Homo sapiens: one gene and its partner. The protein of the gene in region 2 purifies or fractionates together with the protein of the main gene of each other region. This does not show direct contact. Each region holds a gene or a part of one and is shown on either strand. Other genes may lie near its edges.

What was found.
Region 1: the proteins of KLRF1 (region 2) and ZNG1A purify together in Homo sapiens (affinity purification with mass spectrometry, with the first as the bait; 2 studies listed by BioGRID). This does not show direct contact.

What each region holds. Positions count from the first base shown.
Region 1 is NC_000009.12:161,426-166,673, forward strand, and holds part of ZNG1A (zinc-regulated GTPase metalloprotein activator 1A), read right to left. Parts: intron 3,024-5,248; exon of another isoform or gene 2,978-3,023; intron 2,613-2,977; coding exon 2,553-2,612; intron 1,045-2,552; coding exon 1,007-1,044; intron 1-1,006. UniProt on the Homo sapiens protein: Zinc chaperone that directly transfers zinc cofactor to target metalloproteins, thereby activating them.
Region 2 is NC_000012.12:9,833,090-9,838,337, forward strand, and holds part of KLRF1 (killer cell lectin-like receptor subfamily F member 1), read left to right. Parts: intron 1-172; coding exon of another isoform or gene 173-189; exon of another isoform or gene 190-200; coding exon of another isoform or gene 201-213; coding exon 214-363; intron 364-5,248. UniProt on the Homo sapiens protein: Functions as an activating receptor involved in immunosurveillance upon binding to various ligands displayed at the surface of myeloid cells.

The sequences.
Region 1 (5,248 bases), on a different chromosome or scaffold from region 2:
CCACTGCACTCCAGCCTGGGCAACAGAGTGAGACTCTGTCTCAAAAAAAAAAAAAAAAAAAATTAACACGTTCAGATATGAGGTTGGATACAAAACAGACACTAATTTTTAAACACTGAATTTAAACTTCCAAGAACTTACTGCTTTGGGCCCTATCCATATGCTCAGATTGGGAACGGGTCAGTGGGTGGGATGATTTCATTCTTTTCTGCCTTTAGTGGTATTTCACTTGGGAAGTTGAGAAACATCATTTTACTGTATGTAACAACATACTTTTAAAGATCTTACTAAATGCATTTTATAAATTAAACCTCATTTAAATGCATTCTAGGACCTTAGAAGTTAACAAAAACATTCATAGCAGGATGTCTTTTACACTTCATCTTAGCCAAAAGACCAAGAAGCGATGCAAGATGCCTTTTAATGGAGAGGGTCTTCTTACTAATCCTATGTGTATATCCTGATTTTCTTCAATATGTACTTTTTAAATTTTAAGTTCCAGGGTACATGCTCAGGATGTGCAGGTTTGTTACATAGGTAAACGGGTGCCATGGTGGTTTCCTGCACCTATTAACCCATCACCTAGGTCTTCAATATTTTTTAAAAACTCATTTCCAGTGTGTGTTTAATAGTAATTTAACAAGAAAAATAAGATCTCAGATGCTTTATCAAGCTCAGCTTCTTCTATGGAACAGAAAAACTTACCAATATTGGGGTTGAATCCTTGTGAAGAGTTATACATACCAAACTCTACCCTAACCCCATATGCTTATTACAAATTATAATTCCAAATTTTATCACCAAATCAAACTCAGAGTAATAGAAAAGAAATATTTAACACAAACTAATAATTAAAACACAAATTTCACCTATTGTTCAGGATATCTTTTTGAGAAAGGTTTTTGTTAAAGAAAATTTCAGATACAAACATAAAGAAAATTAAACAATCAATCCCCATATTCCCAGCTCTCAATAATGACCCACTCATAGCAATCTTTCAACTTACTTTTAATCCATATTTTGAATCCACAATAGTTATGATACCTACAAAGGAAAAAACATTTTAATCACTTTTTAAAAAGAATGTTTATTAATATTTGTACAACCATACTTCAAAATGAAAATTAAAACTAACCTATTTCAGTTCACAAATACTACTCAATAAAACAATGTACTGTTTTTTTCTCTTGCCAGTGCTGCCATTTAATTAAATTCCAGTAATAAGTCAATGCATTTCCTGAGTGGCTAGCACTATTTTAAGGCACTAGAAACGATATAAAACAAATAAAAATTTTAAATTAAATAAATAAGAAAATAAGATTTCCTTGGCACTGAAAAAGCTTACAATCCAAAATATAAGTCAAATTTCATAACATAGTCAAATGTGATAAGTACATAAGACAGGTTATTTCTAGTTTATTTTCACATAATCAAAATCAAGACTTTTCTTAAGATTTAAATTATTGCCTAAAGAATGAGACATCTTAAGGTATCATTCCTAACATCTCTCACCAAATCCAAATCCAACTCATAAATGTTCTACATAACATATGCCTAAGTTTCCAAACTACCAATTCATTTTGCAATCTCTGAATATATGCTGATAACAAAAGAATGAGTTTAATTATGCCTAAGGAATTCAACCAGTTACCCGCCACATATATTAGAGCTCAATGATGGGGCCCAGCTTAATAATTCTTAAATTTCTTAATGATTATTACTTTTGAAAAAGTAAGAAAATTTCGACTGAGAAAGGGAGAAAACATAGTCGCTTAACTAAGAAAGTTTCTAATATATTTTAAATGAAGGCATATCATTGCCCAAAAGTGTTCAGGTAAATAAAGTAAGACAGGAGTGTTTAATTCTTATCTTCAAGAGAAAATAAAAGCAAAAATATGATCCTCATATTGCCTGGAGGATTAAAATAAAAGGCTCTAACATTATATTAAGGGCATAAATCAAACAACAGAGGATACAGAAAACCTACAAAGCATTTTTTTTTTTAAAGAAAACCTTAGTGGAAGCACTAAATTGGAAGTTGAGTGACATCGAGTTCCACCACTGTCTGGGGTTTTTTAATCTATATGAACAAAGATTTCATCATTAAACTAAAGTGTGAAAAGAACAACAATGCAAGGAATTAAAGTTATAATATGAATGAACAACAACAATAAGCTTAACCATAAAGATTTTACTAAAAAACAAAAGAGGCAGGGTGTGGTGGCTCACGCCTGTAATCCCAGCACTTTGGGAGGCCGAGGCTGGCGGATCACCTGAAGTCAGGGGTTCAAGACCAGTCAGGCCAACATGGCGAAACCCCGTCTCTACTAAAAATCCAAAAATTAGCCAGGTACGATGGTGCACGCCTGTAGTCCCAGCTACTCGGGAGGCTGAGGCAAGAGAATCACTTGAACCCAGGAGGTAAAGGTTGCAGTGAGCCGAGATCATGCCACTGCACTCCATGCACTCCAGTCTGGGCAACAAAGTGAGACTCTGTCTCAGAAAAAAAAAAAAAAACAAGAAAGATAAAAGAAAACTGTTTTTTAACTTACCATCAAGATAAATATCACTCCCTAATTCAGCATCAACCCAAAACATAGAAGCCACTGCACCTGAAAATATATAATATTCATCAAATAAAAATATTTCTTCACACTGAGAAACATGATTCTATCCATGTTTTAATTTGCCCTGATAAAATTAACAGGTAAACACATATATCTTCTTATGGAAATTATAGTGATAGAAGCTTTAACTATTTATAGCAAAAGGGAATTATAGTGATAGAACCTTTTACTATTTATACCCATTCCATTTCCATCTCTCTTGTTATTTCCTTTAAAAAAGACCAATTCTAACCACATATAAACAAAACATCATTCTTCTACCGATGCCATAATAATTTAATTAACAGATATTATCAAACAATTTGAGCAGTATGGCTTTGTGCACATCAGACTTATTTTTATTTTCTCACCTCTTTAATATGATAATCATTCAATCATAAATAGTGAATTATCACTCTAAAGGAAAAGGAAAACAAAACATAGATAATTCCAAAATCACTTGCCCAAAAAAAATTTACTTGTAATCTGTGTAGAACTAGAAGTAAAATTATATACTCTATGGCATTACTAATTATTCCTCACACTATTTATTTAGTACTGTATAAAACCTGGGTCTTAGGAAAAATTTTTCCTAAATAATAAATTAAAACTTGCTTTTGACAGAAATTGGTTCAGTACCAAACCACATACCCTGATTAGTATGCCACAACGCAAGAAAAAGAAAACTGACAGCAAGGAAAGTATTTGATTTTTGAAAGCATCACAGGCCCAGTTAGTGACAGGGCTGTCTAAAAGAATGAGTGTAGGAGAAAAACAAGGATAATCAAACTCATTCCAGCGTCTAAAGCTGTCCACCTACTCTGCCAAGATGTGGTCCCCCAAGCATCACTCGGTGTCAACAATGAAATACCTGTCAGCTGTTTACAGTGATTACTCATGCAAGATATAGCAAGGGCCACAAGATCTAATGGTTTCCTGATACCTATTGATTTTTTTCCCAAAAACTTAATAGTTTTCCAATTTGACTCAAATAGGATTTGTGAGTAACAGGGGCTGAATCAATGTCTGTTCTTTTCAAGGAAATTACTTTACCATGACAATTATTTAACTTAGAACTGGAGCGTGTCAGTCTCCAAAACGGGAAACAACTGAATTGCCAATAAGAATTTTGTTCACTTTCTTGGCTAAAACATGATTTTAATTAATGAGGGGGGAAATTAAATCTACTGTATCACTACTCCAAACAATAAGTCATTTAAAAAAGCATGAATTTTTTCACTCAGTAAAATATCTAACATACATAAATCATTTTGTAATTTTTAAAAATTCATTGATTTTTATTCCAATAAATAGTTTACAAATCCTACTGTTAATATTTGCCTCTTAAGTTGAAATGTAAGAGTATATTAATGCTTTATTCTAAAACTGGTATTTATCTTTGATATAATACTTGCCAGACTACATGAGAAAGATCTATTTAAAATTTGGATGTAGGTATTTAGGGGGAGTAAAGATGAATGAACAAAATTGATCAGTGGCTCTCAAATCAGGGTGCTTTTCTCCCCAGGGAATATTTGGCAATGTCTGAAGATGTTTTTGGTTGTCTTAACTAGGGGAATGCTACTGGCATCTAGTGGGTAGAAGCCAGGGATGTTGTTAAATATCCTACTCTGCACAGGGCAACCCCCTCACAACAAATAATTATCCAACCCAAAATGTTATTTGTGCTGACACTGAGAAAACCTGAACTACATTTTAGAATCTCCCTTCTTCAAAATCTAATAAAACAAAAAATAAAAACAAAAAATAAAACAAAAAGGCCAACATTTTATTAGCAGCAACCAAATATAAAAGGGCCTGCCATAAATTTTGAAGACTGATAGTCAAAATAAGAAACAAAGTTATATGTGATTGATGGTCATTCCCAACTCTACCCCTACCTCCAATAAGAGGTTGTAGGGAAATAGTTTACAAAATCCTAAACACTTACCAGAAATACACTCCAAAATGACAAAAAGTAGAGCCGAGGAATGAATAAGCAACACAAGGAAAAGTCAACAAAAAAATTTCAAGAGTGAGTTTTAACCATCTCTTTGCTTTGGGAAGGAGAAGGTCAGGTCACATTCTAGGGCTCAGAACAAAGAGAAATGAGAGCTCTGAGGTCGAATGATGTCCCCATACAAGGCAAAGGAATTTTATTCATAAGCAGTTGGGCAGACCCAAGAGTGAAATACTTGGTACTTCAAGAGAGCAGAGCCTAAAAGCCACATTGCCCCATTTGGCTCTCTGAATCACCACTTTTCCCTTCTCTTTCCCTCCACTCCAACAATATACAGCTTTCAAACTAGGGCTCAGGAGAAAAACAAACTTGGGTAAGGAGAGTGGAGTATTAAAAATATTTCCCATCAGCACCACATAGAAGTTCTCCCACATCAAGAAGAAACATGTATGCATATGTATTACAGCCTGACAAAAAGAAACACGCACATACAGGGAATAAAAAGCAAGAAAGAACACAAAATGAAGAAATGAATAGGGCACACAAGTGGCAAAGAACCCATTCTGGAAGGATACATAACCCAATAAAAACTAAAGAAAATTCTCAACAACTTCATCATAATGAAGAACTTGAAAACAATACAACCTTATAATAAACAAGCTCAAAAGCAAGAAGAAGCAGA
Region 2 (5,248 bases):
AATAGATTCTCACCAAATATGTGTTGTATAAATGAATTGATTGTATAATATTTTGAATTCTTTCCATCAGTAGACATGAAAATTTTAAAAAGATCCTAGTGACCGTTTCAATTATTTCTTGTTCCAATCATCGGAATCATTCCATTGAATGTGTCCCTGAAACATTCCATAGAGAAGATATTTACCTAACCTTAAAATAGTCCTGTATTCAAGTTTCTCAGGGAGTATTGCTAAAATGCCAAAAAGGAAGTTGTTCAAATGCCACTCAGTATGAGGACACTGGAGATCTAAAAGTGAATAATGGCACAAGAAGAAATATAAGTAATAAGGACCTTTGTGCTTCGAGATCTGCAGACCAGACAGGTATGTCTCAAGGCTTTGGCTTATCCTAGTTTTAATCTTTTGGACTCTCTAAATGTGAAGTATTTTTGAACAGGTATGCAATAGATTAAAGTAACAAGTAAAAGTTTGGTATAAGTCTACTTTTCATTCAAAACTCGATTTAGGTATCTTTAAACTTGTTGCAGTGGGAGAAAATGGTAAAACAACACAAGAAATAGGCTCTGCCCTCCAGGAATTTAAAATCCAGTTGATACATATAAATATGGAAAGTTAGTTGTTATTAAAAAGCAGTATGTAAATAGCCATTCTTGTTTGTCACTTATTTATTCTTCTTTTTCTGAAATACAGACTGGATAAAAGTCAATATTTTAAAAATTATTCATTATGATTTTAAGCTTAGACTTTTAAGCTTAGAAATTCCAGTCATACAGAATTTTGAAAACATTACCTTCTATTTTTAAATGTTTAACTTTTTTTTTTTTTTTTTTTTTTTTTGAGCAACAAGGCTGTTTATTTCACCTGGGTGCAGGCGGGCTGAGTCCGAAAAGAAGAGTCAGCGAAGGGGAGATAGGGGTGAGGCCGTTTTATAGGATTTGGGTAGGTAAAGGAAAATTACAGTCGAAGAGGGTAATTCTCTGGCAGGCAGGAGTGGGGGTCACAAGGTGCTCAGTGGGGGAGCTTTTTGAGCCACGATGAGCCAGGAGAAGGACTTTCACAAGGTAATGCCATCAGTTAAGGCAAGGACTGGCCATTTTCACTTCTTTTATGGTGGAATGTCATCAGTTAAGACAGGAACAAGCCATTTTCACTTCTTTTGTGATTCTTCAGTTACTTCAGGCCATCTGGGCGTATATACGTTCAGGTCACAGGGGATGCGATGGCTTAGCTTGGGCTCAGAGGCCTGACAGTCCTGCCTTCTTACAGTAATAAGAAAAATAACATAAAATAGTATTGAAGTGTTGGGGCAGCGAAAAAAAAATTTGGGTGCGGGGGGTAGCATGGAGAGATAATGGGCGATGTTTCTCAGGGCTTCTTCGAGCGGGATTAGGTGTGGCGTGGGAACCTAGAGTGGGAGAGGTCAACTTGCAGGAGGATTTTGTGGTAAGGGGTGATATTGTGGGGTTGTTGGAAGGAGCATTTGTTGTATAGAATGATTGGTGATGGCCTGGATACGGTTTTGGATGAATTGAGAAACTAAACGGCAGATACAAGGTCCGAATAAAAGAAGGAGAAAAATAGGTATTAAAGGACTAAGAATTGGGAGGACCCAGTACATCCAATTAGAGAGTGTCCAAGGGCGTTCAGCATAATTACTTGCTTGGTTGGCAAGTTTTTGGACCCTATCCTTGAGTTTTCTTATGTTGTCATACACCAGGCCAGATTGATTTAGGTAAAAACAACACTCTTCATTTAAGAATATACAGAGTCCTCCTTTTTCAGCAGTGAGTAAGTCAAGGCCTCGGTGGTTTTGGAGGATAACTGCAGCTAAAGAGTCAACTTGGGCCTGGAGGACTGATAAAGTTTGTGATATGTCTGTGATGCTAGCAGAGAAGACACTAGAGAGGCTATGGAAGGTCGTGACAGAGGTTGAAATGCCTCCTATTCCAGTACCGAGAGCAATAGTGGAGGCAGAAAGTCCTAAACCAACAAGCAAGGGAATTAGTGGAATAACTCTTTTTTGTCGTGTTGGTGTCATGAGGGGAACAGGGAGCTCTTCGGTCCTATTTGCAAATTGAATTTTGGGAGTAAGGAAAACTAGTGTGCATGTACCTGTCCAATTAGCAGGTAGACACATGGAGGTAGAGGATCCACAGAGGAAGAAGAGACCTTGTGCGAGGCAAAACTGGAGATGCAAAGTAAAAAGATGAGGAGTGCTGAAAGGGGTGTCTTGTACCCAGACTCCTGGGGATCCAGCTAGGGCGGCAGCCACCAGAGGTTGTAATGGGGACTGGTGGGGTAACTGCGTAGAGGGGGAGGTTCGATTTTCATGGTATATGAGAAAATGTTGAGTGTCTATGAGCTACCTTTCACTGTTATTTTCGGGGCTGGGTATAAGTAAACAAGAAGAGGGCCTGGGAGGAGGGTCTGATGAGCAAGGGGAAGGTAGCCGAGGATGGAGTGAAATACAGGGTAAGTGTCTTCCTAAGCAATAATTACTGCTAATATTTTTAAGTTTGCCAGTATTGATAGAGGGCTTTTCTGTAATACGGAGCTGGAAGGCTCCAATTGTTTCGGTGACATGCATAGCTGGACTTTGGAGATGAAGAGTAAAGGAACATGGAGAAGGTGAAGGGTTACTAGGGGAATTCCAGTGGGTCTTTGCCGAGAGATACATAAAGGAGTGGCCACAGGAATAGGAATAGTAGTTTGTGTTGTGAGAGGTCCAAATATGGGGGGAGTAGAGTTGATATAAGGAGAAAGGTTTTTTAAGTAAGTGTGGAGGAGGGCGGCAGCTTGCTGATATGAAATGTCTGGGGAGGTCTTGCTGGACCTGTCTAGAAAGTAAATGAGTTCTTCAGGAGGGTAAAGGTGAGGGCTGTTAAAGGAAGTTCAGAGGTATAGGGAGACAGATGTTGCCCAGTCTACATGTAAGGTGGGGGCAGCTGTGTAGGCGCTGGAAGAAAGGGAAATGCAAAGCCAGCAGTTGTTCAATAAGGAGAGATTAGAAATGGCTAGGAGAGAATAAGTAACGTTGGTAGTGTGGTGGAGATAGCTGGGGAGAGGTAGAGGGTGACATAAGAATGGGAATGATCCCTTCATTCTATTAGGTCTGTTTGTCCTTACCCTACTTTTTGCAACAGGGCTTTACGAAGTTACCCCCACTACTTGGACCGAGCCCCAAAAACTAGTCATCCCTACTATCTTCTGTCTAGTCATACTCCTATTCACCATTCTCAACTACTTATAAATGCCCTACTCTTGTTTACACTGCCGGTTTACACTGTTTTTCCAAGCCATCACAGCTGATATCTCTTGGTGCTATCCCCAAACCGCCAGTCTTAACTCCCTCTTAGAGTGGATAGGTGATCTTTGCTGGCAGGGGACCCTCCAATACTTCCACCCTGATGAAGTTCTATTCTTTACTTTTAAGTTTAACTTTTTGATACTTAACTGATCATTTTGACATTTGTTTTATTGTATGAGATGATATATTATGACTTTCCAGATAAATGTATAATTATTATAAAAGGATTTTTTTCTAATCTACTAGTTCGTATTTCCTCCTTTATCATACGTGAAAATTTTATATATTTTATGTTCTACTTATTGACACTGTCTTCATTTGGCTTATCTGTCTGTTTTACAGGTATATTTCCCAAACTAATAGATATTGTAGCTTTACCTCATATTTTATTGTCTCCCTATCTGTAATGTCTGTCACTGTGTTGGGTATCATTGCAATGACACCTTAGAAAAATTAAGGCGGCTTTGGTAGGTAAACATGGAATCATGTACATGGCAGTAAACATTAATTAAAGTAGGTATAAATACTGTATATTGAGCTACAATATATTTATTTCCTATTCCTTTTCTTAGCTGAGGTACAATTCAAAATTTGAACCTTTAAAAGTAAACAATTTCATGATGTTTAGAACCTTCAAACGTTGTGAACTACCATGTTTATCTAGTTGAAAAACTTTTCCCAAAAATAAATCCCTTACATACCCAACAAGCAAATCACTCTCCATTCTCTCTCCCCTTAGCCTCTGACAACTACAAATCTTCTTTCGGTCTATATGGATTTACCTATTCTGGATTTTCATGGAATAGAATCACACAATATTTGGCCTTGGGCTTCTTTCACTTAGCATAATGTTTTTAAAGTTCATCCACATTTTATTCCTTTTTATGGGTGAATAATAGTCCATTGTGCATGTATATCTATAAATATAGATACATATATACTTATATGTATCTCTATATCTATAAATACATATATATTTATATGTATCTCTATATCTATAAATATTTATAGTTTTATGTATATCTGTAAATATAGATATGCACAATGTTTGTGTGTGCAGAGCTTAAAGGTCAGCCAAAGGTGAGATCTTAGGACCTTTTCAGGTAATTTCTGAGCATGCATCCAGCTCAGGGCTTGTGCCTGGCCTTCCAGATTTTCAGGATTATGTGGGAGCTTTCCAAAGTCCTTATTCATGAAACAGCTCATTCCCCGGCTTTTCCTCTCAAGCTTTTCAGTCAGTCCTATTGTTTGTTCCAACTGTTATACCTTGCCTCATGTGACAAAAGCTAACACATTCAACTTAACTTTTACAAACATCGTTTGGTAGCCTCAAGGCAGATATCTAAGTCTTCTTTACTGGCAGTGATATCTACTGCTAAAACAATTCAAGAGTCCATAGGTGCTCTGGATTTCATAGAAACTCATGAAAAACAAACTCAGTTACATGTTGTCTGCTAATTCTACAAATAACACCTCACCTGACTTGAATCAAAATTACTACTGATAGCAAGGCCACCTCTTTGCTAGGCCAAACAAACCACCTACAGCCAGGCCCCTGCTTCAGGGTGAGCCCTGAGAACAAGAGAGTTTATATCGGACCCCAAAAGACAAGTGGGTCCCAGGTTGGATAATCTCCGGTAAATTGGTGAAACAATTACAATACTTACTAGGGTTACATGACAACAGTGCCAGTCTACTCCTTAGCTTCTGGAGGCAATCTTTCCTTCTGCACCTCCCTCTGTATCCATGAACGGCAGGATCCTGCTCCCACATAGGGATATGGTGAGCATGCAAGCAGGCCTCTTCTAGTAGACATCCACTCTTTTACCATATTAATTGAGGTTGAGTCTTCAAAAAATAAACAACTTTGACTGGCTCTGACTGACTTTTAGACATGAATGCCCAAATTCCTCTTATTCCAGGAAGCACTCATAAGTTAAA